Homo sapiens: one gene and its partners. The protein of the gene in region 2 purifies or fractionates together with the protein of the main gene of each other region. This does not show direct contact. Each region holds a gene or a part of one and is shown on either strand. Other genes may lie near its edges.

Region 1 (4,036 bases), on a different chromosome or scaffold from region 2:
ACGATTCACAACAACTCAGTGAGATACATATAATCATCCCAATTTTAGGAATGAGGAAACTAAACAGCACAAAGCTTAATAATAACAAGAGACATTCATTGAGAGCTTACTATTTGCAGATACTATTCTAAGAACTATATACACAAATTATTATTTCAGTTAATCCTTCACTATCTCTGAAAGGCAGGATATATAGAGTCACAATAGGTCTGGGTTTGCCTGTAACACACTGCTGATGTTTGTTCTCTTGATGTAATTATTAATAATGATCTCAAAAGTGTCCTGACTTGGGTGACATTGTTTAATCATCTAGTTAAATAACTTGCCAGACGTCACAGAGCAAATGGCAAAGCCAGGATTTCAACCCTGTCTGTCTGATTCTAAAGCCTAGCTCTTTATAGGACACATAATGATGCTATTAGTGGTCAGCTCTTCAGGTACTGATTCATATAAATGTAACTTTTGTCTTTGCACAAGAAAGCAATTAATAGGAAAAAGAATTTTTGAAATGAAAAAGTCCTTAATCTGCTTCAACACCCTTATCTTATAGAGAAAACCAGAACTCAAAGAAATTAAATGACTTATCCAAAGTCGAACAGTTTCTTATATTATAGCACCCATCCACTTACATGACGTAATACTGTGATTTCCAAAATATGTTTTCCATTTACATATGTCTTTGCTTCCCCAACTGGGATAATACTCACTGTCCCACCAAAATTTTTGATAGTACTGTTAAAATAAGAAGCACATAGTTAACAATTATAGAACACACTAAAAAGTAAGAAAAAGGCAATATGGGATAATTCTGCTTGGGCTATTCCTTTGGTGTTAAGATTCATACCAATATGTAACAATAATTTAAAATTATTTTATTTTCCTCCAACTAGTTTTTTTTTTTTTTTTTTTTTGAGACGGAGTCTTGCTCTGTCGCCCAGGCTGGAGTGTAGTGATACAATCTCAGCTCACTGCAAGCTCCACCTCCTGGGTTCAAGCAATTCTCCTGCCTCAGCTGCCTGAGTAGCTAGGATTACAGGCACCCACCACCATGCCCTGCCCAGCTAATGTTTGCATTTTAGTAGAGATGGGGTTTTGCCATGTTCGCCAGGCTGGTCTCTAATTCCTGACCTCAAGTGATCCACCTGCCTCGGCCTCCCAAAATGCTGGGATTACAGGCATGAGCCACTGCATCGAGCCTCCAATTAGATTTTGAAGTTTGGTGAAAAAAGCCTGGCCTCTAGCAATCCGATCCACCTGTGGTGGGAACATTCTTCATTGGGTGTATTTTTATTATAACTTCTTTGAAAACAAAAACCTTCCCCCAAAAATTCAAAAAAAAAAAAAAAAAAAAAAAAACTAGCAAAAAACATTAACATACTGCCAGTGATTTCTTATGAATAAAACAGTTTTAAGTGTTTTTTTAATTTTCTAAGCTTCTGGTTTTACATATGAGCTTTAATAACAGAAAGAACAAATATTTCTCCCCTTTTGAAAAGTAGGGTACTACAGAGGAAGGAAAAACATGGAGATCAAAGTGTACCCCTTAAGACATCTAATTTACTGGATGATAAGGTGATACTGTGGAAAATCAGCTATAAGTGCTACATATTTGAGTCTTTTTATTCAGAGAATAGGAAAGAAACTCCAAAGTCCAATTCATCTTTGGATTAACGGGATAGAAAGAAAAACTGCAACAAAAGCTGAGTCCTAACCAAAGATCTTTTTAGCTGTGGATTAGGCTCCAAGATCTGTGATTAGAGAATAATAGTTTAATTAAAGCATCTAGAGAAAAGTACATGGAAACAATAGTTCACCCTTAGGCACTACATCCCTCCTACCAGTCTAGTGTCTTATCCAGGTGAAGGTTTATACAATGTGTACTTGTTCTGATCCCTTTCCTCTCCTAATTCTATCTACTCTGCTCTCAAAATTCCATGGCCTACCATTCTGGACGCCCCACAATCTGGCTTCAACCACCAACCTCCCTCATCTGCCACTATTTTCCCATAAGAACCCCATTTCACACTTAATCAACCATATGAATACTCTGAATTTGCCTTAATGTCAGCTTTCCTCCTTTCCTTGAGTCATTCCTTCCAGATAGGACATCCTCTCCCTTCTTGCAACCATTCTTGAAGGCCCAATTTAGAGTCCTCTAAGAAGCTGTTCTTTAGGGTTTAAGTTAGAAGTCAACTCTTCCTTCTCTTCACTTCTAAGCAGTAAGTATGCAGTACTCATAACACTTAATATGCATTAATAGATACTGAAGTTCTTTTTTTCTCTTTCACATGACCAGCCTCAGCCATGAAGTTCTTTTATTCATTAAGCCTCCAAGAGCCAGTTATGTGTCAGCAATGAAGACAGACATGAAATCAGCTTTCATAAAGTTCATGGTCTAGTGAACAAGATAAACTGAGGAAGGTACGAAAAATGGAAGTAGAGAGTTAGAGGCAAGCAAGAGGCTTCCAAGTTCCTTACTGGACTCTTAACTCTTTGGGAGCATGTTCTGTATCTTTGCCACAGATGTTAATAATACTGTATTTATTTGTTAAAGAAAATAATTAATTAATAAAAGAGCAAAAGAACCTAAAGAACAAAAGGATATGCCCTAACAGATATAAAGATTCATGGCCAGGTGCAGTGGCTCACGTCTGTAATCCCAGTACTTTGGGAGGCCAAGGTGGGTGGATCACCTGAGGTCAGGAGTTCAAGACGAGCCTGGCCAACATGATGAAATCGTCTCTACTAAAAATACAAAAAACTAGCTGGGCATGGTGGCTGCTACTCAGGAGGCTGAGGCACGAGAATCGCTTGAACCCAGAAGGTGGAGGTTACGGTGAGCCAAGATCACACTACTGCACTCCAGCCTGGGTGATAGAGTGAGACTCCATCTCCAAAAAAAAAAAAAAAAAAAAAGATATAAAGATTCATTACAGGCCGGTCGTGGTAGCTCACACCTGTAATCCCAGCACTTTGGGAGGTCAAGGTGGGCGGATCACCTGAGGTGGGAGTTTGAGACCAGCCTGGCCAACATGGTGAAACCCCATCTCTACTAAAAATACAACAATTAGCCAGGCGTGGTAACAGACATCTGCAATCCCAGCTACTCAGGAGGCTGAAGCAGGAGAATTGCTCGACTCCAGGAGGTTGCAGTGAGCTGAGATGGTGCCACTACACTCCAGCCTGGGCAACAGAGCAAAACTCTGAAATCAAAAAATAAATAAATAAAGATTCATTACAAAGCTCAAGTAATTACGACCATGGGGTATTAGTAGGAAGAAACAGATTCTGATATTTTTAGAAATTTTTTGTAGGAGCACTACAGATTCCAAAAGAAGCAATAAACTATTTAATATTTGGTACTGGGAGAAATGGCTATTCATGTGGAAAATAAATGAATTTAGATCCCTAATTCACACCAAATAAAAAATTCCAGACATTCAATAACTTAAATGTGAAAGCAAAACTTCAAAACATCTAGAAGAAAATTTAGAACATCTCTATGACCTCAATGTACAACAGTCTTTTTTTTTTTTTTTTTTTTTGAGTTAGAGTCTCACTCTATTGCCTAGGGTGGAGTATAGCAGAGTCATCTTGGCTCACTGTAGCTTCCACCTCCCAGGTTCAAGTGATTCTTATGCCTCAGCCTCCCAAGTAGCTGAGACTATAGGTGCCCACCACCATGCCGGGCTAATTTTTGTATTTTCAGTAGAGATGAGGTTTCACCATGTTGGCCAGGCTGATGTTGAACTCCTGGTCTCAAGTAATCTGCCGCCTCAGCCTCCCAAACTGTTAGGATTATAGGCGTGAGCCACCGCACCTGGCCAGAACACTCTATCTCTCTCTCTCTCTTTTTTTTTTTTTTTTTTTTTTTTTGAGACATAGTCTCGCTCTGTCACTCAGGCTGAAGTACAGTGGCATGATGATCTCGGCACACTGCAACATCCACCTCCTAGGTTCAAGCGATTCTCATGCCTCAGCCTCCTGAGTAGCTGGGATTACAGGCAGGTACCACCACGCCCAGAAAATTTTTTGT
Region 2 (4,036 bases):
CCAGGGGGCCAGTGAGGGGGCTCTGGCACCACCGCTTACGTAGAAGAGAGAAGGCACCAGAGCGTGATGGAACCCATAGACTGGCAGGGCTGCCGCCCCAGGAGGCCCAGGAGGGTGGCGGCAGGCCTCAGGTGCAGGAGGTCTAAACGGTGGTGCTGACAGAGACGGGGAAAACAGTGACGACTTCTATTCGGTCCCACTCCAAGGACTTGACCAACACCCACACGGAGAAATCCCCCGGGCACTGAATAAGCTGACAGCTCATTTGTTGAAAGCCAATTTGTCAAAAGCTGGTTCCTCGCAGCATTTCAAGGAATATTCCATTTGTCTCTGCCCCAGGTCCCTGTTAAGAAGAGAGTCGGTGGACAACATGGACTAGGCCACTGCTCACAGAGAGGGGGAGTGGGTCGGCAGGATGGTCACCCCGAAAATAGATTCCTCATTACTGTCTTTCCATTTACATGAATGATCTAGCTGTGAGAACATTCAAGATTTTAACTGTCCTCAGGAATATGAAGTCAATCTTCATCAATGTATTGGTAAAGATACATGAAGATATTCTTCAGTGCATTCTTGAAGAGTCTCTTCAGATGTCAGTAAACAATATTTTCATAAGGATATTCTCTCAGTCTCCCCTTCTCTCTGGCCCCCATCTCCTGGCCCTCTGGCAGCCGCGCTCCCTTCTCTTCCTTGGTCAAGGACCCCCCTCTCTCCACCTCCTACAGTCACAGAAGCAAATGGACAACTCTGGAGAATGCTCTTATGAACACAAAACGATGACCAGTCAACCCAGACACCCTCAAGACAGACCGAAGGTGTTAAGACCACCCTCTCCAACACAAAGTGTTCTAAACTTTATTGTTTTTTTCAAAATAGTGTTGTTGTTTTTTTTTTTTGAGACGGATCTCCTTCTATTTGCCCAGGCTGGAGTGCAGTGGCACGATCTTGGCTTGCTGCAACCTCCGCCTCCCGGGTTCAAGTGATTTTCCTGCCTCGGCCTCCTGAGTAGCTGGGACTACAGGTATGCGCCATCATGCCGGGCTAATTTTTTGTATTTTTAGTAGAGACAGGGTTTCACCATGTTGGCCAGGCTGGTCTCCAACTCCTGACCTCAGGTGACCCGCCTGCCTCGGCCTCCCAAAGTGCTGGGATTACAGGTGTGAGCCATTGGGCCCAGCCAGAAAGAGTATATTCTTGGTCATTTCTGAGAATTTGCTTTTGGCAAATTGAGCTAGAGCCTAATCATGGCCCACAACTTGGAGGAAAAGTCTGAGACGGAGAAACAGCTGTAGGAGGGGTCAATAGCCCAGGTGCAATCGGTGCATGTGGCCAGGATGGATGAGCTCACTCTGAGCAAATGTGCCAAAGCAAGGGGCCCTGGGGAGCTGGGGGAAGAGCCAACAAAACAGAAGCGAAAGCAGGAGGAAATTCGCCAGGACGGCTCACACAGGAACCCAGAGGATGTAGGGATACAGTGGAAAGGTTGAACATACATGTAACTGGGGCCTTAGAAGGGGAAAAATGAGAGACTAGGGCAGAGTCACTATTTGAAAATATAATGGCTGAAAACGTCCAAAACTGACAAAAGACATCAAGCCATAAACCCAAGTAGCAATGCGAAGCCCAAGCAGGATGAATGCAAAGAAAATCACACCAAGGGGAGAGTCAGCGGCACAAAAAAGAAGAGAGAAAGAAAATCACGCCAAACATCATCATAGCAAAACCACTAAACAACAAAGAAAAACAAAAGATCTTAAAAGGAGCCTGAGGAAAACAAAACTGTGATCCGAGGAGCAACAAGAAGACTGGCAGCTGCCTTTTCAACAGAAACCATGGAAGTCAGAAGGGAATGATTTGTTCAAAATGCTTATTATTTCCAAAAATTAAGTGCCAACTTAGAATTCTATGTCCAGCAAAAAATATCCTTCAGGGCCGGGTGTGGTGGCTCACGCCTGTAATCCCAGCACTTTGGGAGGCCGAGGCAGGCAGATCACGAGGTCAGGAGTTCAAGACCAGCCTGGCCAACATGGTGAAACCCCGTCTCTACTAAAAATACAAAAACTAGCCGGGCGTGGTGGCACATGCCTGTAATCCCAGCTACTGAGGAGGCTGAGGCAGGGGAATCGCTTGAACCTGGGAGGCAGAGGTTGCAGCGAGCCGAGATCTCACCATTGCACTCCAACCTGGGTGACAGGGTGAGGCTCTGTCTCACAAAAAAAAAAAAAAGAATTCCTTCAGAAATAAAAAGGAATGATGGCATGTGTGAGGCAATAAGGTGACAGTGACTGCATATTTAACATTGTGGACTTGTTTTAAAACATTTTTGGTATGGTATTTAGGCTATGTTAACAAAATGATCCATATTTCAGGTTCACACTGAAATATTTACAGATGAACTGATATAATGTCTGTGCTTTGCTTCAACGCAATAGGGATGAGAGGAACCAGTTCAGAGAGCAGATCAGACCTTAGGTCAGACCTCCTCAGAGATCCCAAGATGCAGGATGCTGTGACATGGAGGAGAAGTCGGGGAAAAAATGGAAGTTAACACGACCCCAGCCTGCAACAAAGCCCTAAGCAGATACCTTGAGGAAAGTCAGCCCGAGGCTGGATCCCTGGGGCTGAGAGGTCACAGAGCAACACTGAAGCCTCTAGGAACCATAGCCTGTTATCTCCAAGCCTCGTCTGAAAGCGAAACATACCAGAACAGTCTTGGGACAGAGGAGCTAGGGTCTGGATGCCCCCAAGGACCTCGTGTCCAGGAGGGAAAGAAAAACATGGAGACCTGGCATATTCACTTCCGGGCGTTTTCAATATGACAGGAGGCTATAAGAAAATTTCACGACTGCCCACTTGTGGATACAGCCAGAAATACAAAGCAAGAGTGAAAGTTTTGCCTACTCGGCACCTGAGTAGCTTCTTTTTTATTCAATTTTTATTGAGGTAAATTTCATGTAACATAAAATGAATTATTTTAAGGTGAACAATTCAGCGGCATTTAGCACATGTGGTGTTGTGCAACCACCATGGCTATTAATAGTTCCAAGACATTGGCCGGCTGCAGTCATGCCTGTAATCCCAGCACTTTGGGAGGCCGAGGCGGGCGGATCACGAGGTCAGGAGATCGAGACCATCCTGGCCAACACGGTGAAACCCCGTCTCTACTAAAATATGCAAAAATTAGCTGGGCGTGGTGGTGCATGCCTGTAATCTCAGCTACTCAGGAGGCTGAGACAGGAGAATCACTTGAATCCGGGACGCAGAGGTTGCAGTGAGCTGAGATCAAGCCACTGCACTCCCTCCAGCCTGGGCAGCAGAGCAAGACACCACCTCAAAAAAAAAAAAAAGCCATTAACAACTTTCTTTCTTTCTTTCTTTCTTTCTTTCTTTCTTTCTCTTTTTCTTTCTCTCTCTCTCTCTCTCTCTCTCTCTCTCTCTCTCTCTCTCCCTCTCTCTCTCTCTCTCTCTCTCTCTCTCCTCTCTCTCTCTCTCCTCTCTCTCTCTCTCTCTTTCTGTTTTTTTTTTTGAGACAAGTTCTCACTCTGTCCTCTATCACCCAGGCTGGAGCACAGTGGCACAATCATAGTTCACTGCAACATAAAACTCTCGGGCTCAAGCGATCCTCCTGTCTCAGCCTCCCATGTAGCAGGGACTACAGGCATGTGCCACCAAGTCCGGTTAACACTTTTAAAATTTTTTGCAGAGATATGGTCTCACTTTGTTACCCAAGCTGGTCTCAGACTCCTGGGCTGAAGCAATCCTCCTGCCTCGACCTCCCAAAGCACTGGGATTACAGCCATAAGCCACCACATCTGGCCCCATTTTTCTTTACGATCTTTCAAGGACTTAGTTTGCACATAGGAAGCAGAAAGGAATTGTAAATTCAGTTCCATCAGCATCTACTTGGGGCTTACACACAAGTATTAATTAATTCTCACAACAGTTCCAACAATAGTGGGATCATTTTTACCTCCATGTTACAGATGTGGAAACTGAGGATTGCAAACTTGAAGCACCTCGTCCAAGGTCATTCAGT
Region 3 (4,036 bases), on a different chromosome or scaffold from region 2:
CCTTCCCCGAGTGCCTAACACTTGCTCTGACCCACCACAACTGCTGGCCTGACACTTGCTCTGACCCACCGCAACTGCTGGCCTGACACTTGCTCTGACCCACCGCAACTGCTGGCCTGAGTCTACTGGGGCCTGAGGGAATTGTCGTGTGATGACATCACATTTATTGGGCATCTGCTTTGTCCCTGGCACTAGGCTCAAACTCAGGACAGCCAGCCCACATCCAGTGTTTCCTGCAGGCCTGGCACCACTCCCAATGTCAACTTGTCTCATCCTCACAACAGTCTTTGAGGTAGCATCAGTCATTATCCTGTGCACAGAGGAGTCCACGGCCACCATGGCAAAATCACTTGCACGAGGTCACACACCGGAATTGGAACCTGGTTGTCTGAGTAGACATTGTCCCTGAACTACACTGGGTGTCTGGGTCCACTCCGTTTTGGAGATGAGACCTCAGGTCCTTTGGAGAGTCTCTCCCCTTCAGACCATGTGACCCCTTAGTTACCCCAGAGTGGGGTAGCGGGTAGAGGGACCACACGTGGCCTGCCCTGGCTGTTGTGATGTGTCAGGGGTAGGCCTGGGACCCCAGCAGCCAATGAGAGTAAGCTCCGTGGTCCCCTGTGGGGGGAAAAGGGTGGCCTCCAATGAAGCCAACCCTGGAGATGGGCACAGGGCAGAGTGGGCACGAGAGACTGACTCTTACTGCCATTGAGTGACCAAACCCGGCCGTGCCTAATGTGAGACGCCTCTGGACTTTTCTCCAGGACGTGAGCCAATCAGTTCTGTCTTCCATCCATGCTTCCATGCTTTCCCCTGCAATGCTGTGGGGTGGGGACTCTGAGCGGCTTCCTCATTTTACAGAGGAGGACACTGAGATCCGGAGAGGGGAAGTGCCTGCCGCACGGTGGGGTTTCAACACAGGACCCTGCAGCCCCGCAGCCCCGAGCCCTGCCCGAGCGGCGCCTCCTACCTCATCCAGGAGCTCCACGGAGGCCCGCAGGATCTGCCTCCACTTGTGCACCTCCACGCTGTGGAATTGCTTCTGCAGCGCCAGGATCTCGGCCCACTCTGTGGCCGTCTGGGGGAACTTGCTGTGGGGATGCCAGGCCTGAGCAGGGCCTTGGCCTCCCCCGATGTGCCCAAGCCCCCCCATTTCCCCAGGCTACCCACTCACCCCTTGGCCAGGGCCAGGCTGTGCCAGGACTCAAAGGTGTGGGCTGTCCTTTCCAGGGACCAGAGGCGGTAGAAGAGCAGGACGTTGAGGGCGATGAGGATGATAAGGCTGGGGACAGGGGTCAGAGGTCAGGATTCCTGGGGTCTAGATGCTCTGAACACCCCCAAACAACTACATCTTGTAGGGACACCTCTATCCCCCATTGCAGAGGAGGAGAATTAGGCTCAGAGAGGATGAGAGACATGCCTAGGGTTGCACAGTCCATAGCAGGGAAGTCAGTGTTCAAACCCAGGTCTGTCTGATGCCCATACCCTTGACTGCCATGCCAGGCCACCTCCCTGGGGGAGCTGGGGGGCATGGGGTGGGGAGAAGAGGCTGCAGCAGGGGTGGGGTGCAGGGAGGGGAGGGCAGGGGGAGGACTCGGGACCCTACCTCACACAGATCCTGCAGCAGCAGCAGTGAGGGGAGACAGAGAGATGAGCGCCGCCTGGCCTGCCCCCGACACCCCCAGCCCTCCTCACCCGGGGCAGCTCTTGGCTGAGAGCACCACGCCCCCTCACTGGATGAGAGCTGAGAGCTGAGGCTCAGAGGCTGAGCATGTAGCTGGCCTGACCCTCACCTCGCAGGGTCTGCTCAACCCCGGGATCCTGCTTCTGTTTCCTCCCAGCGTCCTGCCCGCCAACTCCTGCAGGCTTCTGGGCAGGAGTGTGGGTTCTCCCTGCCCAAGCCCTTAGCCTACGCGGTCTCCACTCTCTCAGGACGCCCATCCTGACTGCCCCCTCTGGCCTGGGAGGAAGCCGCCGCTGGCCTCCCAGGGCTTCCCCACTCCCAGCCCCAACCCCTCTGCCCATACCTCCCCCATCCCAGCCCGGATCACTCTGGTCTGGTGTGAGGTCTATCTTTTCCTCAAGGTCACTGCGGTGTCCTCAGCATCGCCCAGCTTAGGAGTGGGCACAGAGAACATAATGTCCATAAATGACCTCACTTGTTAGGCACACCTCTCCCTGTGCACCTAATTCCAGAATCTTTGTGTGCCTGCTCCTCCAGAAAGCCCCCCTTGATCCTTGGGTGAGGTCAGGCCCCTCTGATCTCCCATAGCCCCCCCCGGCTCTGCTGTTCTAGCAGGGAAGGCTTCTCCATGACAAACCGGCACATCCCAAACATTGCCTTGTCTAATCCTTGCTGTGAGCAAACCCACGCTCCCACTTAAGCAGAGAGCTCAAAGAGGCCACACACTTGCCCAAGGTCACACAGCCAGGAGGCAGGTTCAGGCCTGTGTGGCCACTGCTCCTGTCTCTTACTCACACAATGCTGATGAGAACCAGGGCACTGGGGATGCCTGCCCCGGGGCCCTGGTCCACAGATGGTTCGGAGAAGCGGGAGCTGAGGGAGCCTGCAGGAGAGCAGCTTGGAGTCAGATGGCCCAGTCCAGGACCCCCGATCCTCCGCCTACCCCAACCCGGCCCCAACGGAACGTACCCGAGGTGTGAATGCCGGCCCGGGCACAGGGGTCAGGATCTGGGTGCTGGGGCCCGTCCCCGTGAGCCCGCCAGCTCAGGGGCCGCTTCCGCCGCCGCAGGCCGGATAGCAAGCCCCGGGCATCCTTCCCGCCTTCCTCCAGAGACAGCTTCTCAGCCTTGGCGAGCTCTCGCTCTGCGTAAAAGAGAGGGGGCTCTGGATGTCCATACCTGGCCAGGCCATCCCCCAACCCACGCCCCAGCCGGCCTTCTGTCCCTACCCAGATGGTGGAAATAGTCTTCAATGCCGCTCCACGAGTTCTTCTCAATGAGCGACTTCACCAGGCTCCACGGCTGCTTTCGGTAGCGGATCTCAGAAGACACTCTGGGGTTGGGAGATCAGGGGAAGGAGGTAAGGGTCTGACTCCAGCCCTGGCTGCCCCGTCCCACAAGCTGAGTTTTTTCCTTCCCCTAATTCAGAGAGGGCCCCTTGTCACTCACAGACAAAACAGATGGGTTCCCTACCCCCCATGGCTTCCCTGGATACCCCATACACCACCCGCCCAGCCCAAATGCCAGCCAACTCAGCCCTCGGTCCTTCTCCACCCATGCCCACTACCTGGGCAACGCTCCCGGCGGCCTGAGCCCTGTCTACTCACAGACTGACGTCTTAACCAGACCATGCCCCTGAACCTCTTCCATTCGGCTGCTGCACCCCAGCTCCACATGGGCTCAGCTCAACATAGACAGCTGAGTCCCAAACTGACCTCCTGGTCTTTCCCCAAACCCATTCCTCCCTGCCGCCCCCATCTGGGTCAAGGGCAGCTCCGAAGTTGTAGTGATTTGGGCCAAATGCCTCGGGATATTCCTTGAGCTCTCTTTCCCTCACCGCCACATCCAATCTCTCAGCAAATCCTGTCAGCTAAACCTGCAAAATCTCTCCAGAATCTAAACTCTTCCCCCTCCATTTCCTCACCCTGATTCAGCCTCCGTCCCCTCCAGCCTGGATGTCCCAGCAGCCTCCTCCCTGGCCTCCCTGCTCCTGTACCTGTCTTTGCAGTCTGTTCCCACCAGAACAGAGGGAGCCAGAAGGAGCCTGGGACCACCTGAGTCAGGTCAGCGCCCTCCTGGCTCAGAGCCCTGGCCTGGTTGCACCTCACTCCAGGTAAAGTCAAGTCTTCACCATGAGCCACATCTGGTTCACCTTTTTTTTTTTTTTTTTTTTTTTGAGACAGGGTCTTGCTCTGTCGCCCAGGCTGAAGTGCAACGGTGTGATCATGGCTCACTGAAATCTCCACCATGTCTGGCTAATTTTTTAACTTGTTTTTTGTTTGTTTGTTTGTTTGTTTGAGACAGAGTTTCACTCTGTCACCCAGGCTGAAGTGCAGTGGCCCGATCTCGGCTC
Region 4 (4,036 bases), on a different chromosome or scaffold from region 2:
GGAAGCCGAGGCAGGCGGATCGCTTGAGGTCAGGAATTTGAGGCCAGCCTGGACAACATGGTAAAACCTCATCTCTACTAAAAATACAGAAATTAGCCAGGCATGGTGATGCGCACCTGTAATCCCAGCTACTCAAGAGGCTGAGGCAGGAGAATCACTTGAACCCGGGAGGTGGAGGTTGCAGTAAGCGGAGATCACACCACTGTACTCCAGCCCAGGTGACAGCGAGACTCCGTCTCAAAAAAAAAAAAAAAAAAAAAAGAGAGAAATGTTAAATAGCTGATGTTTTTTATTTAGTGAGTATAATTACGCAAGCTGTTTGTACCTTTTCATGTTCCTCAATTGTTCATTTTTTCAAACTGAGGACAGCTTCAAATATTTGGTATCAGCATGTTAATGATATCTGCTAAAACTGTATTTTTGCTGAAAAAATGTTTAATTAAATTTTGAACTAAACATCAAGACAGTAAAATAAATAGAACTGTGGGTGTTTTAATAAGGATTTACTTACGGATAGTATTTTTATCTTGTTTGATGTTTCTTTAAACCTCTGTAAATCCATGCTATCTCTGTGTCCTTTAATAGAAAAAAAGATGTTGCAATGAGAAATTTTTATTTTTCTTCACCGAAATAATGGCACTGCTTAAAGTTTATAAAAACAATAGGTTTATGCTGTTTTTCAAGTACACTTGATGGCTCTGCAGTCTCCTTTAGCTCTTTTGATAAATAAAATTGAAAATTGCCAAGAAGCTGGTGAAGGTTACAGTTTTTTTTGTTTTTTGTTTTTTTAAATTTGAGAACAAGTCTCGTTCTGTTGCCCAGGCTGGAGTGCAGTGGTGTGACCTTGGCTCACTTCAACCTCTGCCTCCCGGGTTCAAGCAATTCTCCTGCCTCAGCCTCCTGAGTAGCTGGGACTACAGGCACGTGCCACCATGCCTGACTAATTTTTGTATTTTTAGTAGAGACAGGGTTTCACCATGTTAGCCAGGCTGGTCTTGAACTCCTGAACTCAAGATCTGCCTGTCTTGGCCTCCCAAAGTGCTGGGATTACAGGCCTGAGCCACCGCACCTGGCCAAGATTATAGTTAAGTTTACAGTAACGTTAAAAGCCAAAGTCCTTATAAAACAAACCAACATGTGATATGAATAAATAGCTCGAAATTTAAAAGAAAAAAGGGGACCAAGCATTTTTACTATTAATAAAAAAAAAAGCATTACATATATACGGATAATCACTCAAAAAGGAATGATTTATTCTTATGCCTATAACTTAAACAAAAACAGAACAAAAATATTTTGGCAATAACACTTTAATGACCTTAATGAAAACTGTTCCACACATAGAGATTGTTCAGACAACATGTTAATAAGCCCATGTATAATCTCCACATTAAGACCAGTCTAGCAAGTTATTCAGGCACTGAACATGCTGATACTTACTGCTAGGCTATATGGAATTCACTCTAGATATACAGATATGTAACTTTTCCTATATAATATACATGTAGAGAAAATATATATGATATATACATACACCCCACTGGTAATACATTAACAAATAGGCTAAAATGCATTTTTAAAAATAAATTGGAAATTAGCCAGGTGTGGTGGCGTGTGCCTGTAATCTCAGCTACTCAGGAGGCTGAGGCAGGAGAATCACTTGAATCTGGGAGGCAGAGGTTGCAGCGAGCCGAGATTGTGCCACTGCACTCCCGCCTGGGCGACAGAGGGAGACTCCGTCTTTTAAAAAAAAAAAAAAAAGGGGGAATATATTTAACGTAGGAAAAGTTATATCTATGTATCTAGAGTGAATCCCATATAGCCTAGAAGTAATATCAACATGTTTAGTGCCTAGATAACTTCCTAGGCTGGCCTTAATGTGGCAATTTTCCATGGGCTTATTAACATACTGTCTGAATAATCTCTATGCATGAAAGTTTTCACTAAGGTCTTTAATGTGTTACTGCCAAAATAAACATTTTTTTTTGTTCTTATCTTATTTAAGCTATCATAGGTATAAGAATAAGTCATTCCTTTTTGAAATGTTCTCTGTGAATATATAAATAGGTACACCATAAGTACTAATTTTCCCAGTAGATTCCTAGATTTCCATTGTTGTTCTGATATAATTATTAATAGTGCACCCTTTCACTTTTAAAGTGTCTTGGTTTGGGTAAAAAAATTATATGGTCATCTATTTATAGGGCACTGTTCTTTTCCAGTTGATTCTAACCTCCCCTATGAGGTTCTCCAAGTACTTAAGAATCACTTAGGTTTTCAACAAGAGTTGATGAAACCCAATTGAAGATATTCAAATTCAAAAGACAGAACCTAAAATTCCATCAAAGAGGTTATGTGCCAATATAACTCTTATAGCCTAATTCAGTCTATTTCCCCTACTTCTGATTTTTTTTTTTTTTTCATTTCATTTCTAGAGACAGGGTCTCATTCTGTCACACAGGCTATGGTGCAGTTGTGTGATCACAGCCCACTGCAGCTTTCAGCTTCTGGGTGCAAGCAGTTCGCCTGCCTCAGCCTCCTGAGTAGCTGGGACTTCAGGCACATGCCACTGCGCCTGGCTACTTCCAAAAATTTTTTGTAGAGATGGGGTCTTGCTATGTTGCTCAGGCTGGTCCTCAACTCCTGGGCTCAAGCAATCCTCCCCACTCAGCCTCCCAAAGTACCAGAATCACAGGTGTCTGATTCTTTTTAAAAATTTTATAATTATACTCTATGAAAAGATAATGACTTGTAACAGTACATATTTCTATTATTTCTAAGGTGAAAAGTAAATAATATTGATATACAAATACGAATTTGCCAAACTTACCTACAAATGCTCCAAATTCTGTATTATCTCCTTCTGTAGCTTTAGAGCAAACAGTTTCTTGATCTTTGGTTCCAGTTTCCAAGTGGCTTTTGCAACTTGGCTGAGATGGTGTACTAACAAAAAATTTGGTTGGTGGGGATGACAGATGTGGTATGCTAGTAGATGAACTGCCTAATTTTTGATTTTTATTAAATATTTTTAAGAGTTCTACCCCATGTAGTCTCTGTCGCAGTTCTGGAGGGGAAACAGCACTTGGGAATAAGGCACCAGAAGAGGAACCAGCCTCTGGAAAATTAAATTCTTTTCTCTGGGGTACTGCAGGTAAGTCTTGACCAAATATATTACACTGGGGATCTTTGTCATCTTTCATTAAAATATTACAATGAAAAGGATTATTACTTTCAAGATCACCTTGAGGAAGAGAGGAGCTAAGTGTATTTACAACACCATGCTTTTTCCATACAGAAGGTCTTACAGGACCATCATCAATAAGGTTTTGAGCCAAGTGTTTGGAAATGCTCAGTTCTCGTGTGATTTCATTATGAACTTTGCTAGCTTCCGACGCTTTCTGGGCAGTGAGTGTTTTTAATGTATCTACCGTCAGGGCTGAAAGATCTTGCAAATGGCCAATTTGAGAATCTAATGATTGTAATGATCTTTTTATGTAGTTGACACGATCTCCAACTTCTTTAATCTGAATGCACATCTGTTCCACTCTGTAGGAGAGAAATAAGCTTTTTTTACAAATGTGAAAAAATAATGTAGAATTTTATTTTGTAGCCTCAAATAATAATGATAAAAAGAGAAAAATTTCACATGCATTTAAACAAGATATAAAATAAGGTACAGTTATTTAATTATACAAGGCCTACCTTATGTTTAAGAAGGATCCAGTGCTAATCTTATATTAAAATGCAAGATTTCAAAAAACGTTTTTGTTCCACAGGCTACTTATTCCAATTACCCCACATCAAAGTAACACAAAATAATGTATATACAGCTACATATATACAGAACTACCATTACTGTTACTGTAACTGTTACCAAACACCATATGCTTCCAGAATGTAGTGAAGCCAACAGAAAAAAAGAAATGCTGGCCAGGCACAGTGGCTCACGTCTGTAATCCCAGAACTTTGGGAGGCTGAGGCGGGCAGATCACGAGGTCAGGAGTTCGAGACCAGCTTGGCCAACATGTTGAAACCC
Region 5 (3,888 bases), on a different chromosome or scaffold from region 2:
GGCGCAGGGGTGTTCAGACCAAAGGTGGGGGTGGCGGTGCCTGGAATGAAGAGAACAGAGAGCTGGCCAGTGAGCAGAGGGCAGAGGCAAGCGAGGAGCCGGGCAGGAGCCTGTGCTCCGCAGGGCACTTCCCACGGGACCCTCAGCCCCACTTCTGCTTCTGGGGCACTCCTCCATCAGCAGCTGAGCCAGACAACCGAGTCTTCATGCCTGGTGCCCCAGCTCAGCCTGCTTCTCCCACCCGCTAATGGCCACGCCAGGGCAGAGAAAAAGCCCCCCTGCCCCGCAGCCACCTCGTGGGCCTCCTGACCATCGCTGCAGAGGGGAGTACTCTGGGGCCCCCGCCTCCTAGCGTACCTGGGTTGGCTACCTCCTCTGTTCAGGCCTTTTCCCCCAGCCACCGTCCCCTCCCCTCTGAAGCCTGGTTTGTCCGTCCCGCGTCTTTTGTGATGCCCCGTGGTCCCCTCCCTTCCCCGGCCTTGCCCTGACTGGCTCTGGCTGCCTGCCCGAGGCCCTCTCTGGCAGCCCCTCTGCAGGGATGGCTGCTCTCAGGGCTTGGCCTCCGGCCCGGACAAGAGGAAGCTCCCTGTGCTCCCACGCTGCTTCCACACTGTTTCTCTTCCTTCCCTAAATACCGTAACTCAAGTTCAGATCACTTTAATCTGCCATGTCCTCATGTCACCTGTCAACTGCCAGGTCACTCCCTGATTCACAGAGGACCCTTGGCTCACTGGCTTCCTTCCCATCACCACTCACGGTGACTTCGCCCTGTGAGGCTGACTGATGGTCCTCTCAGCCCCTCAACCCTGCCACCCCCATGACCTCCTCTCCCCGACCCCTGCCACCACTCCTGCAGCCACACTGTCACCACAACTGCTCCGGCTCCCGAATCTCCTGTAGGCACCACCCCTCCTGCAGCTGACTTCACCCGCTCTCCACTCCTGCACCCCCTGAGCTGCATCGGGGCACTGACCCGCTGCCCCTCCTGCTGTGCTTGCTGGGGTCTCCATGGCCGGGTGGCACCAGCTGTCCGCTGACCTTAGGTCTACACCCACAGTGTCGCTGGGAAACACATGCCATGCTAACTGGCCTCACTTTAACTTCACAATCACAATTTTCCAGCCCACAAACTGCCTGGAAACTGATCACACTTTTTAATATGATGTTCCTTTCCCCCACTGTCCAAAATGACTATTTCAAAAGACCCCTTTTTTTATACACTTTATCCTGACCCTCTCTCTCCCAGATTTTCTCTACTTCACGAAGCAAACAGAAGCCATGGGATCTACATTCATCTTCCACATGGGAGGAACCATCACTGCATCCTTCTGCCTGATTCTGCAATGGTTTTCCTGAACACTTAAGACCCAAACACCCAACCCTGGCCACAAACAATCCTTGCCTCTTGGCCTCCTTCCACACCACTGCTTTAGCTCCTGCCCTCCTGCCATGCTTGTCTTTGTTCTGCTCTTCAACATACCAAACATGTTTCTGCCTCTGGGCCTTTGCATGCGCCATCCTGGGCCTGAAAGGCATGTCCACTTGTGCTGTGCCCACCCCCATATTCAGCTTACGGTTTGTTTTTTGAGACAGAGTCTTGCTCTGTCACCCAGGCCGGAGTACAGTGGCATGATCTTGGCTCACTGCAACCTCCAACTCCTGGGTTCAAACCATTCTTGTGCCTCAGCCTCCTGAGTAGCTGGGATTACAGGTGGGTACCACCACGCCCGGCTAATTTTTTGGTATTTTTAGTAGAGACAGGGTTTCGCCAAGTTGTCCAGGCTAGTCTTGAACTCCTGGCCTCAAGTGATGCACCCTCCTTGGCCTCCCAAAATATTGGGATTACAAGCGTGAGCCACTGCGCCCAACCTTCAGCTTACAATTGTTAACTACTCAGAAGGCCTTTGACCAGTTAAATCCACAATGGCTCCTCCAGTCATTACTACGTTAGCAAAACATGTATCGTTCCCTGGCATCTCACTGAGTTCTATATTCAGTGCCTGTCTCTTCACTGCCACAGCATAAGCTCCCCGAGACCACAGGCTTCGCAGGCACAGCTTTTCAGTGTCCGGCCCGGTAGCCCAAGTCCACGCCCCTCCTTACCTCCAAACACAGGTTTGCTCTCAGTTGTGCTGCTCACGTTGAAGGCAAACGGTGTGCTCTGGCCGGTGGTGCCCAGGGCGTTCTGACCTAAGCCCCCTGCGAAGGGGGTGGAGGTGGCTGTGCTCCCACTCTGTCCTGCTCCAAAGCTGAAAGCTCCGGTGGTGGTGCTGGAGCCTGGGGTGGCCACATTGATCCCAAAGCTCCCACTGCCAGCGGGGGCTGCCGAACCCCCAAACGTGAAGGGTGATGGTGTTGTGCTGCCAAACACCGAGCTGCTGCTCCCGCTGCTGGCGGTCTGGGTGGTGGCTCCAAAGCCGGAGCTGGTGGCTGCACCGAAGAAGACAGCAGTGGAGCCGCCAAAGGCGGGCTGTGAGCTGGCGGGAGCGCCGAAGGCCGAAGCCGTGGCTTTCAACCCAAACGCCGAGTGCGTGGCACCGCCAAAGATAGGATGGATGGGCGTAGGCACGTACGCAGGCACGACCTTGATCATGGACGGAGGTGCAGGTGTGGGTGCAGCAGCCGGGGCTGCAGAGTTTCCAAAAGTGAAAGAGCTGCCAAAGCTGGGGGCAAGGGCCGGCTTGGCGGCCCCCGGTGGCTGCCCCTCAGCGGCCCCAAATGCGGGCTGGGGGTTGGCTCCCGGATATGATGGGAGCGGGGACTTGGCGCTTGAGCCAAAGGGAATGTTGAACGTGGGGGTGCTCGTGTTACTGAACGTCAGAGTGGGCTGGCTGCTGGTGGCCGGGGCGGAGGTGGCGAGGGTGCTGCCAAAACCACTAAAGTCGGCAGCGCTGCTGCTGGTGGCCGTTGGCACGGCAGTGTGCAGGGACTGGCTGAAGGTGGTGACTGTGGTGGTTGTGGGCAAGGCAGGAGGTTTGCCAAACTGGAATATGGAGCCCATGGCCGGGGTGAAGCTGGCAGCAGAGGCCTGGGGCGCCCCGAAGAGGAAAGGCTGTGAGGCGGCAGTGGCGGTGCTGGTCGTGGTACTCACACTGCTGCTGCTCACACTGTTTATGCCAAAGCCAAACGCAGGCTTCGAAGCAGAGTCTGTGGATGGACTGGCAGAGGTGATGGGAGCCACAGCAGAGGTGGCGCTGGCCAGGCCAGTGAAGAGCGGGGCAGTTGTGGTGGGAGCAGTGGCGGGAGTAGTTGTCTGCTTGAAGAAGGGAGCAGGCAAGGGCACAGATGCAGGTGGCCCCATGCTGCTAAAGACAGGCTGGAAGGTCGGGGCTGTGGTGCTGGTGGTCGTGGGGAGGGAGGAGCTGGAGGGCGCTGTGGCTGTGACTGAAGGGCCAGGCGGTGTGGGGCCTTCCTTCTCACTCTTGGGTGGAGCCGTGAAAATGGGCTTGAACATGGGAGGTGCTGAAGATGCAGCAGGGGCGGCAGGGCTGGAAGGTGAGGTGTTCTGTGTTCCAAACAGGAAGCTTTGCTTGGGGGCGGGGGACGGGGCAGATGTGGCTTGGGGTTTGGTAGCCGTCTCTGCCTGAAGGGTTGGAGGTGCCTTGGTGTCAGTGGCTGGTACCATGGATGGAGCAGGGATCAGCCCCAGCAAAGTGGTCGGGGGTTTGGAGTCAAAGGAGGGGCTGGGGAGCAGCCCTGGCGGCCCTGACTGTGATAAACCCAGCGGGGGTAGGAGGCTGGGTGTCTTTGGAGGTGAGAGGGCCTCAGTGGTTGCTGCTCCAGCAGATTCTGGAAGAAGAATAGAAAATGTGAAATTGGAATAAACACTTCAAAGATGATGGTATTCAGTATTTCAGTGTCCTCCCCACGCCTACCACAGAGCCTGGG
Region 6 (4,036 bases), on a different chromosome or scaffold from region 2:
ACTGATAATAGCTCTTTCAACCAACTGCCAATCAGAAAACTTTTACATCTACCATGACCTGAAAGCCCCCCTTCCAGATGGCATCAATGTGAATCTTACATGTACTGACAGATGTATTGTGCCTCCCTGAGATGTATAAAAGCAAGCTGTGCCCCGACCACCTTGGGCACATGTTGTCAGGACTGGTGAGTCCTTATCCTTGGCAAAGTAAACTTTCTAAATTGACTGAGACATATCTCCGATACTTTTTGGTTCACATGACTCAACAGAAACAGAAGACCAGGGAGCCGTGTAGCTTTGTGCAGTGCCATAGCTCCTCTGAGCCTCAGTTTCCCCATTCCTGACATGACCTCTCAGTGTCAGAGGCGCTGGAACCAGAGCGACTCCATTTTGAGTGAGGGCTGGGAAATGAGGCTGGGGCCTGCTGGGCTGCATCCCCAGAAAGAGGCATTCCGAGCCTCTAGATGTTTAGTTGTAAAGTAGAGGTTCCTCTTCAAAGACTTTCCTACCGATCTAATTAGGAATAAATAGTAACTTCTCTTAGAAGCAAAATTTATTCAAAGACCTGTGCTAACATTATTAAATATCTGCTAGCAGTAATAAAGAAAGCAATGTACTACTTTAGGTTCTTAGCTCCCACAATTTAGCCTAAATATTTGCCCTGGCATGCTTATACTGGTCCAAGCGGGCATTAGGTCATAGCCTGTTCCTCTTCCTTATTTGAAGGTGTTTTTACCTTTCTCAGCATTCCACAAATTACTTCCTTCCTTTGTTCTCCTCTGCCTTTGCCTCTTTTAAAAAGTTGTACGTTGCTAGCCAATCGGGACAGATACAGAATGTGAGGTCCCATCCCAGTCAATGGAAACCAGAGACGGCAATAGGGTGGACGCGTCAGGTTATAAATGACCCTGTTTCCTTTGTTGGGTGAACTCTTGTGGCAAAGCTGATGGCAAGTGTGTCCTTTCTGCAGGAAGTAAAAATGTCCTTGCTGAGTAAATTAAATTTATGTTCAACTGCTGTTTCTTTACGGCACCGGGGAACAAGCATTTCAAACAATTTGGTGGCAATCCGTACAGGGCTACATTCTCCTGCGGGGGCGGTCTCTGTTCCTCTCTCATGAGGGAGCACGCTCCTCTGCCTCACTGCAGTGGCCTCAGGGATGAGAAATTGAGACCCACCTGGTGTGACGAATAAACCCGGACTCTCAGCAATGCAGAAAAAAAAAAAAAAAAGAAACTGGCCAGCAACCTAAGGTAAAGGATGCTCACATACCAGGGCTGCAACTCTGTGCACAGACCAAGGAAGGAGAAGCCACAGAAGCTGGTAAAGTACTTCCTTGGTGGTGAAATTCTGGAGGGCTGAATGTGTGTATGTGTGAATGATCACAGACAACCCTGCTTGCAGTGTGGTTTGTGTGGACGGTGACAAGTCCTCCTGCTGGACAGTGAGTGGGTCCCCTCCATGGTTCCGGTTCTGTAGTGACCTCATATGGCTTAGGGCAGGTCCTGCTGTGGGATTTATACCAGCACGCCTACACTAAGAGGGGCCTAATTCTCCCTTGGGGGGGCGACCAGAGAGGACAACACAAGTGGGAAGTATGCAAGGGACCTTTGGGGGGAAAGGAGGAAACAGGTCAACCTCCCAGGGCAGGCAAGGCAAGACACCCCTGGTTTGAGGGGTTAAGTCTTCCATTAATTTCAGGGGGTTGAACCTCACACAAACCTCCAGTAGTTAAAATATATATATATATATATATATATATATATATATATATATATATATTCAAAACTCCCTTTTCCCCTCTTCACAGGGAAAGAAAAAGGCTAAGCTTCACTCCCGCTGGTTGGTCCCCCAGGGGAAGGGGAAGGAGAGGGGGGAAAACAGCAGCATAGGTGGCTGGCAGAGACAAAGGAAAGACCAGCAGACAGGAAAAAGAACTAGGAGAGGAAGTCAGAAAAAAAGAAAGCAAAAACAGCAAGCACAGCGGCGCCAGGAAGAGAGCAGAGGAGGTGAGAGGGCATAATTCTTGCAATTTGTGGCAGGCATCTGCCAAGCCTCTGGGCTGCCGGGGCCGGACTGCAGCCATGCAAATCCCACCCAGCCCGAGAAACTAAGTGTAGGAAGAAAGGGGAAAAAAAGTAAAAAGGGGAATGGTGGGGGTGGATAGAGAAACTGACGGCAGTGCATGCCCAGGGGCTGGTGCCATTGCCCGGCCCTGCTGCTGCAGGAGCGGGAGAACTCAGGAGGGAAGAAGGAAGCAGGGGATGAAGAGAGTGAAGAGAGAGAAGAGACAGAAAGAGATTAAAATACAGAGGGAAAGAATAAGAGAGAAACTGGAAGAGACAGAAATCAAAGGAAGACATAGAGGGTGAAACTGAGAAAAAGAAATAGCGTAAAAGGCAGGCAGAAAGTTAAGACATGTTGAAGATTGTGAAAGTTGTAAGAAAAGCTATAAAAGGGAATTTATGCAAGAAATAGTGTATAATTTAAAAGTAATTAGGCCTCCTGAATGTAAAATTATTTAAAAAAAAACAGTTTATATACAAGGTATGTCAGAAAAATAAAATAATACTTTTAATAACAGGATTATAAGGAGACATAATATGGATTTTTACCTACATTAAAAGGTTAAAAAATATATTTTGTTTTAAAGGTTTAAGCAAGTTTTAAAATGTTAATTGTAAAGGAAATTCTGTGTGTAAACATATTGGCTAAAGCTAAAGGGGTATCATGCAGTTTTTCTGTGAACTGGATGTTAAAAGCACAATAGATTTTTCTTAAAGCACTAACCCGCTCTTTAACAAAAATTATAAAAGCTTAAAAAGAGTCTATAAAAATCTTACCCTATAGTCAGACATTAAAATTGAATAAATAATGTCTACAAGATTTTATTAAGTTTGGCCGGGCACGGTGGCTCACGCCTGTAATCCCAGCACTTTGGAAGGCTGAGGCGGGCGGATCACGAGGTCAGGAGATCGAGACTATCCTGGCTAACACGGTGAAACCCCATCTCCACTAAAAAATACAAAAAATTAGCTGGGCATGGTGGCGGGCGCCTGTAGTCCCAGCTACTCAGGAGGCTGAGGCAGGAGAATGGCGTGAACCCGGGAGGCGGAGCTTGCGGTGAGCTGAGATTGCGCCACTGCACTCCAGCCTGGGCGACAGAGCAAGACTCTGTCTCAAAAAAAAAAAAAAAAGATTTTATTAAGTTTAACATTAATAGCACATTAGTATAAAGGTAAAATTTAACTTATCTGGTATAAAATCATACAAAAAGCACTGTCAAATATAAAATGGTGTTTAGCTTTCTTAAGGCCTGAAGGTGGCCAGGTAAGTCACAAGGCCCCTCATGTCCAAGGCCACAGTGCACAGGGGCAGTGAAGGCCCCAAGAAGGCCAAGAGCTTAAGAGGAGGCAGGGCCGCAGTGTCCCCTGGGCGGCGCTGAGCAGGAATGGAGCGGGAGGCATCACCATGGGGCCTCAAGCCCCAGGATATGCAGCAAAAATGATATACTTAATTTATCTTCCAGTTTCCCTTCCCTCAGAACTAAAAGACTTTTAGTTCTAGGTACCACCCCTAGAATTTCCAGTACACCAGCACCAGCCTGAAAACCACGTCCTCATCAAAAGACAGAAAGAAAAAACTTGAGCCAGCCTGGGAAGAACCCTATTTTATGCTGTTAACCACTGAGACTGCCATCCGCAGAGCCAAGAAAAAAACGACCACACTCCAGTCAAGAAAACATCTTTCTCTCAGAATCATGGATGACTGTACTAGGACCAATCCTACTAAGTTAAAGTTAAAGAAAGCTTAATTTTCCTGTACCTTCATATTGCTTCCTTTCCTTATTGTTACTAGCGCCTTTGTTATTACTGTAACTAACTCACCTCAGACCACCGCCTTGAATGCTTGTTCTGTCATACCTTGCGGAAATGTAAAAGATCAACAACAGCTAGCCTTTTCACACAAATGCTTACGTCCCAGCCCTCTGATGGACATGGTTACCCCTAGCTCTCATTATCGTAATGACCTGCAG
Region 7 (4,036 bases), on a different chromosome or scaffold from region 2:
AAGAAATTAATTTTTCCCAGAAAAATAGTTCTAAAGACCAAGAATATCCGATATTAGGGCAGCCATAGCATTTATAATGACAGATCAAATGAACATAATTGGTTTGACAAAAATTATTCATTACCTCATATGTTGCAAGTCGATCTAAGTAGGTTAATAACTTCCGTCTACAACGGCAAAGTTCCTTTTGTTCCAGTGTCAACCTGTTTTGAATAACTATGTTAGGCCACTTATATTTACACAGAATTATTTCTCTAGGAGTTATAATGAAAATGATTAATATTCCGTTGAGCCCAAAACTCATGAAACAGTTCAGAAAAGCACAAGGGTAAGATAATAGTAAGTACATTTGATCTAAGTTGCTAAAATAATTTGGACTAATTATTACTAGTAAGGAACACACTGAAATGATTAGTTATTTTAAAGAAACTATCAAATGAACAGTAACAACTCATTTACTTGGAAAAGTTCACTAATTTCAGTAGTTCTTGTCTCTTCTTGAGCTCCTTTTCCTTTTTATTCTTGGCAGGCTCTTCATCAGGTGGTGAAAGCTCTTCATAGGAGATACTGTCAATGTCTATTTCACCAGGTAATGTAAATCTGCAAGTATAAAAGAACAAATATATTTTCATCATTTTTAAAAACTTCGTGTTGTGAAAAGCTTTCTCCTATTTTGACTGATTTCATTATTGATTTCCACAAAAACAGAAGAAAGTATTTGAAAAAAACTTTTGCCATTGTAAACAAAGTGATCATTCATTATATCCACAGATGGGCAAAAAGTCATCAGTAATTATTACAAATAGAAATCTAAAAATCAAGAAAATGAAAACTATTTAGGAAGAGATGTGGGGTTACATTCACTCAATGTAAAGCAGCCTATGCTGAAAATGTCCACAGAGTTTGCTATTTGAATCACTTCTACTTAAGGTCTTCAAATGGTAGTGTCAGTCTCATTTTAATTATTTACTTCTCAGATATACTCTCATATTTATATTTTTTAAAAAGTTCCAAATGCCTGATGAGCAATGACTTCAGGTAAGACAGTATTGATCAAAAGCAACTGCTTCAGTACAGAATAACTTAAATAAAGAAAAGTTTACCCAGTCCAATGTCTCAGTACAAAAGTTTTCACAAAGTCACCTTTACTTTGAATCCAATTCTTTCTGTAACCAACCTGCCATCATCTGCTCCTTTCCCTATTGCTAAAAGAGCCTCCAGGTCTGTGCCTTTTAATCCATACTGAAGCAGTTCTTTTGCAGCATCCACATTTTCAGGAACTCTTTCCAAACACTCATGGAGAACCCAGGATCGCTTCTTTATTTTACTCTGCATATAAAGGAAGAAACAGAGGAATTACAGAATCCATGACATCTTACAACACATTACAACTGCCTTCAGAATTGTAAAGCTATACCTGATGTATTACAGCTATTTAGGACCTTGGCCATAGGGAGCTGCTAGAGGAACTCAAGAGAAAAGCAGCCAGTTGCCTAATGGTGACTACAACTGGATGCGGGGAGTGTGAGTTGACCTGCTTGCTTTCTTCCTCTAATGAGCTACGCAGAAACAGAAAGCTCAGGACTCATTTTTGGAAATATAAAATGTTTCCTCCTAACTTTTATAAATGCCTTTGGTTTGCACCGTGGCTGTATAATAGAGCAGACAATAAGGCAGAAAGGCAAGATATATTCTGTCATAATTAATAAGCATGTTTAACTTTTAAACAAAACAAATGAGCCCATCAAATTTCTGTATTTATTTGACCATGAGATATATCCCAGGGTGTGAATAACTTGATCATAAAAAGTCATGATATGCTGTTTTTTGGAAAGATCAAAGTCCTATTCCTCCCTCCCAACTATTTCCTCCAACTCCATTCAAAATCTCTGACTTTATTAGTCTTGCTAGTGGTCTATCAATTTTGTTGATCTTTTCAAAAAACCAGCTCCTGGATTCATTGATTTTTTGAAGGTTTTTTTGTGCCTCTATCTCCTTCAGTTCTGCTCTGATCTTAGTTATTTCTTGCCTTCTGCTAGCTTTTGAATGTGTTTGCTCTTATTTCTCTAGTTCTGTAAATTGTGATGTTAGGGTGTCAATTTTAGATCTCTCCTGCTTTCTCTTGTGGGCACTTAGTGCTATAAATTTCCCTCTACACACTGCTTTAAATGTGTCCCAGAGATTCTGGTATGTTGTGTCTTTGTTATTGTGGAAGACAGTGTGGCGATTCCTCAAGGATCTAGAACTAGAAATACCATTTGACCCAGCAATCCCACTACTGGGCATATACCCAAAGGATTACAAATCTTCCTACTATAAAGACATATGCACACGTATGTTTATAGCGACACTACTCACAATAGCAAAGACTTGGAACCAACCCAAATGTCCATCAATGATAGACTGGATTAAGAAAATGTGGCATATATACACCATGGAATACTATGCAGCCATAAAAAAGGATGAGTTCACATCCTGTATAGGGACATAGATGAAGCTGGAAACCATCATTCTGAGCAAACTATCACAAGGACAGAAAACCAAACACCGCATGTTCTCACTCATAGGTGGGAATTGAACAATGAGAACACATGGACACAGGGTGGGGAACATCACACACCGGGGCCTGCTGGGGGGTGGGGGGAGGGGGGAGGGATAGCATTAGGAGATATGCCTAATGTAAATGACGAGTTAATGGGTGCAGCACACCACCATGGCACATGTATACATATGTAACAAACCTGCACGTTGTGCACATGTACCCTAGAACTTAAAGTAAAATAATAATTAAAAAATAAAAAATAAAAAAAAAATCCCTGACTTGCCCTCTTCCTAGAAAGAGCTATTATGGTTATAAATTTTAATTAAGATTTGACTCATTCCCTAGGATCCTTTATATATTGCCTCACATCAGTTCTTTCTTCAAATGTCTCTTAATTCACTTTCCCTTTTCCACAGCTGCGGCCTCCATACCAGTCTAAATCATCAACACAAAACATCTAGCACACTGTAGGAGTCCCCTGCCCCAAGCAAGGTTTCCTACCTTCCTTCCACTCCAATTCTCTCTACACCATCTTCCTCTGCTTCCACAGTCAGAAATCCACAACAGTAGATAAATGCCTAAGTCATCAGAAGCTTTCCACATCCTCCTGAACTCAAATCAATATATCTTTTCAATCATGTTTCCCAGTGTTCACTATTGTCAAATATCAGTGCCAGCAAACTGGTTGATGTACAGAGCTCATTTATCCATAAAATGTTTACTGGGCACCTACTGCACACCAGCCACTGAACTAGACATGGAAATATAGCAGTGAATAAAACAGATTTAGTCACTGGCCTCATAAATCATGCTCAGTGTCTTTTAATTTGTTCATACCATCTGTCCTGTTAAGAATGTCTTCCTCCCTTCTCATTCAAGAAGGCCTAATTTAAATCCTTCCAAATCCCTGCTCCAAACATCTTCACTATATAAAATCTTCCATCTCTACCAGATCTATAATAATCACTATCTTCACTGGGTTTCTAGAGTTGTATCTGAAATCTACTTATACGGCCAGTTATTTTTAATATGGTGAACCCCCGTCTCTACTAAAAATACAAAAATTAGCCAGGTGTGGTGTTGTGTGCCTGTAGTCCCAAGCTACTTGGGAGGCTGAGGCGGGAGAATCACTTGAACCAGGGAGGCAGAAGCTGCAGTGAGCCGAGATCGCACCATTGCAATCCAGCCTGGGCAAAAAAAAGCAAAACTCCATCTCAAAACAAAACAAAAAAAATCATAAGCTCCCTATGAGCAAAAGCCACATTTATGCCTGTCCTGTACCCCTTCACAGTCCCTAGCATAGTGCTCTTGCTCTTAACTGTCTATTTAACTAAACGAAATATTCCCCTCCCCAAAAAAGTACTTGCTTTGTCTCTCTTAACATCCCTCAACTCCCTCAGAGACAAAAACTGTCCTTTACTGTATCCCAGAAAAAGATATACATGAACTCATGAGCTCATTGTCTTAGATCACAAAACAAGAAAGAAAAATAAT

The links.
Region 1: the proteins of TEX28 (region 2) and KIF14 purify together in Homo sapiens (co-immunoprecipitation; 3 studies listed by BioGRID and IntAct, with this or other methods). This does not show direct contact.
Region 3: the proteins of TEX28 (region 2) and GRAMD1A purify together in Homo sapiens (affinity purification with mass spectrometry; one large-scale study listed by BioGRID and IntAct). This does not show direct contact.
Region 4: the proteins of TEX28 (region 2) and TRPM7 purify together in Homo sapiens (affinity purification with mass spectrometry; 2 studies listed by BioGRID and IntAct, with this or other methods). This does not show direct contact.
Region 5: the proteins of TEX28 (region 2) and POM121 purify together in Homo sapiens (affinity purification with mass spectrometry; 2 studies listed by BioGRID and IntAct, with this or other methods). This does not show direct contact.
Region 6: the proteins of TEX28 (region 2) and THEM6 purify together in Homo sapiens (co-immunoprecipitation; 2 studies listed by BioGRID and IntAct, with this or other methods). This does not show direct contact.
Region 7: the proteins of TEX28 (region 2) and NBAS purify together in Homo sapiens (affinity purification with mass spectrometry; 2 studies listed by BioGRID and IntAct, with this or other methods). This does not show direct contact.

The regions. Positions count from the first base shown.
Region 1 is NC_000001.11:200,593,038-200,597,073, forward strand, and holds part of KIF14 (kinesin-like protein KIF14), read right to left. Parts: intron 733-4,036; coding exon 630-732; intron 1-629. UniProt on the Homo sapiens protein: Microtubule motor protein that binds to microtubules with high affinity through each tubulin heterodimer and has an ATPase activity. Plays a role in many processes like cell division, cytokinesis and also in cell proliferation and apoptosis.
Region 2 is NC_000023.11:154,274,326-154,278,361, forward strand, and holds part of TEX28 (testis-specific protein TEX28), read right to left. Parts: intron 1-4,036.
Region 3 is NC_000019.10:35,020,482-35,024,517, reverse strand, and holds part of GRAMD1A (protein Aster-A), read right to left. Parts: intron 3,017-4,036; coding exon 2,913-3,016; intron 2,828-2,912; coding exon 2,654-2,827; intron 2,568-2,653; coding exon 2,480-2,567; intron 1,619-2,479; coding exon 1,607-1,618; intron 1,283-1,606; coding exon 1,175-1,282; intron 1,092-1,174; coding exon 971-1,091; intron 822-970; coding exon of another isoform or gene 777-821; exon of another isoform or gene 733-776; intron 1-732. UniProt on the Homo sapiens protein: Cholesterol transporter that mediates non-vesicular transport of cholesterol from the plasma membrane (PM) to the endoplasmic reticulum (ER).
Region 4 is NC_000015.10:50,589,081-50,593,116, forward strand, and holds part of TRPM7 (transient receptor potential cation channel subfamily M member 7), read right to left. Parts: intron 3,547-4,036; coding exon 2,831-3,546; intron 577-2,830; coding exon 512-576; intron 1-511. UniProt on the Homo sapiens protein: Bifunctional protein that combines an ion channel with an intrinsic kinase domain, enabling it to modulate cellular functions either by conducting ions through the pore or by phosphorylating downstream proteins via its kinase domain.
Region 5 is NC_000007.14:72,941,738-72,945,625, reverse strand, and holds part of POM121 (nuclear envelope pore membrane protein POM 121), read right to left. Parts: intron 3,790-3,888; coding exon 2,104-3,789; intron 41-2,103; coding exon 1-40. UniProt on the Homo sapiens protein: Essential component of the nuclear pore complex (NPC). The repeat-containing domain may be involved in anchoring components of the pore complex to the pore membrane. When overexpressed in cells induces the formation of cytoplasmic annulate lamellae (AL).
Region 6 is NC_000008.11:142,729,908-142,733,943, reverse strand, and holds part of THEM6 (protein THEM6), read right to left. Parts: intron 1-4,036.
Region 7 is NC_000002.12:15,467,205-15,471,240, forward strand, and holds part of NBAS (NBAS subunit of NRZ tethering complex), read right to left. Parts: intron 1,330-4,036; coding exon 1,178-1,329; intron 601-1,177; coding exon 460-600; intron 204-459; coding exon 125-203; intron 1-124. UniProt on the Homo sapiens protein: Involved in Golgi-to-endoplasmic reticulum (ER) retrograde transport; the function is proposed to depend on its association in the NRZ complex which is believed to play a role in SNARE assembly at the ER. Required for normal embryonic development.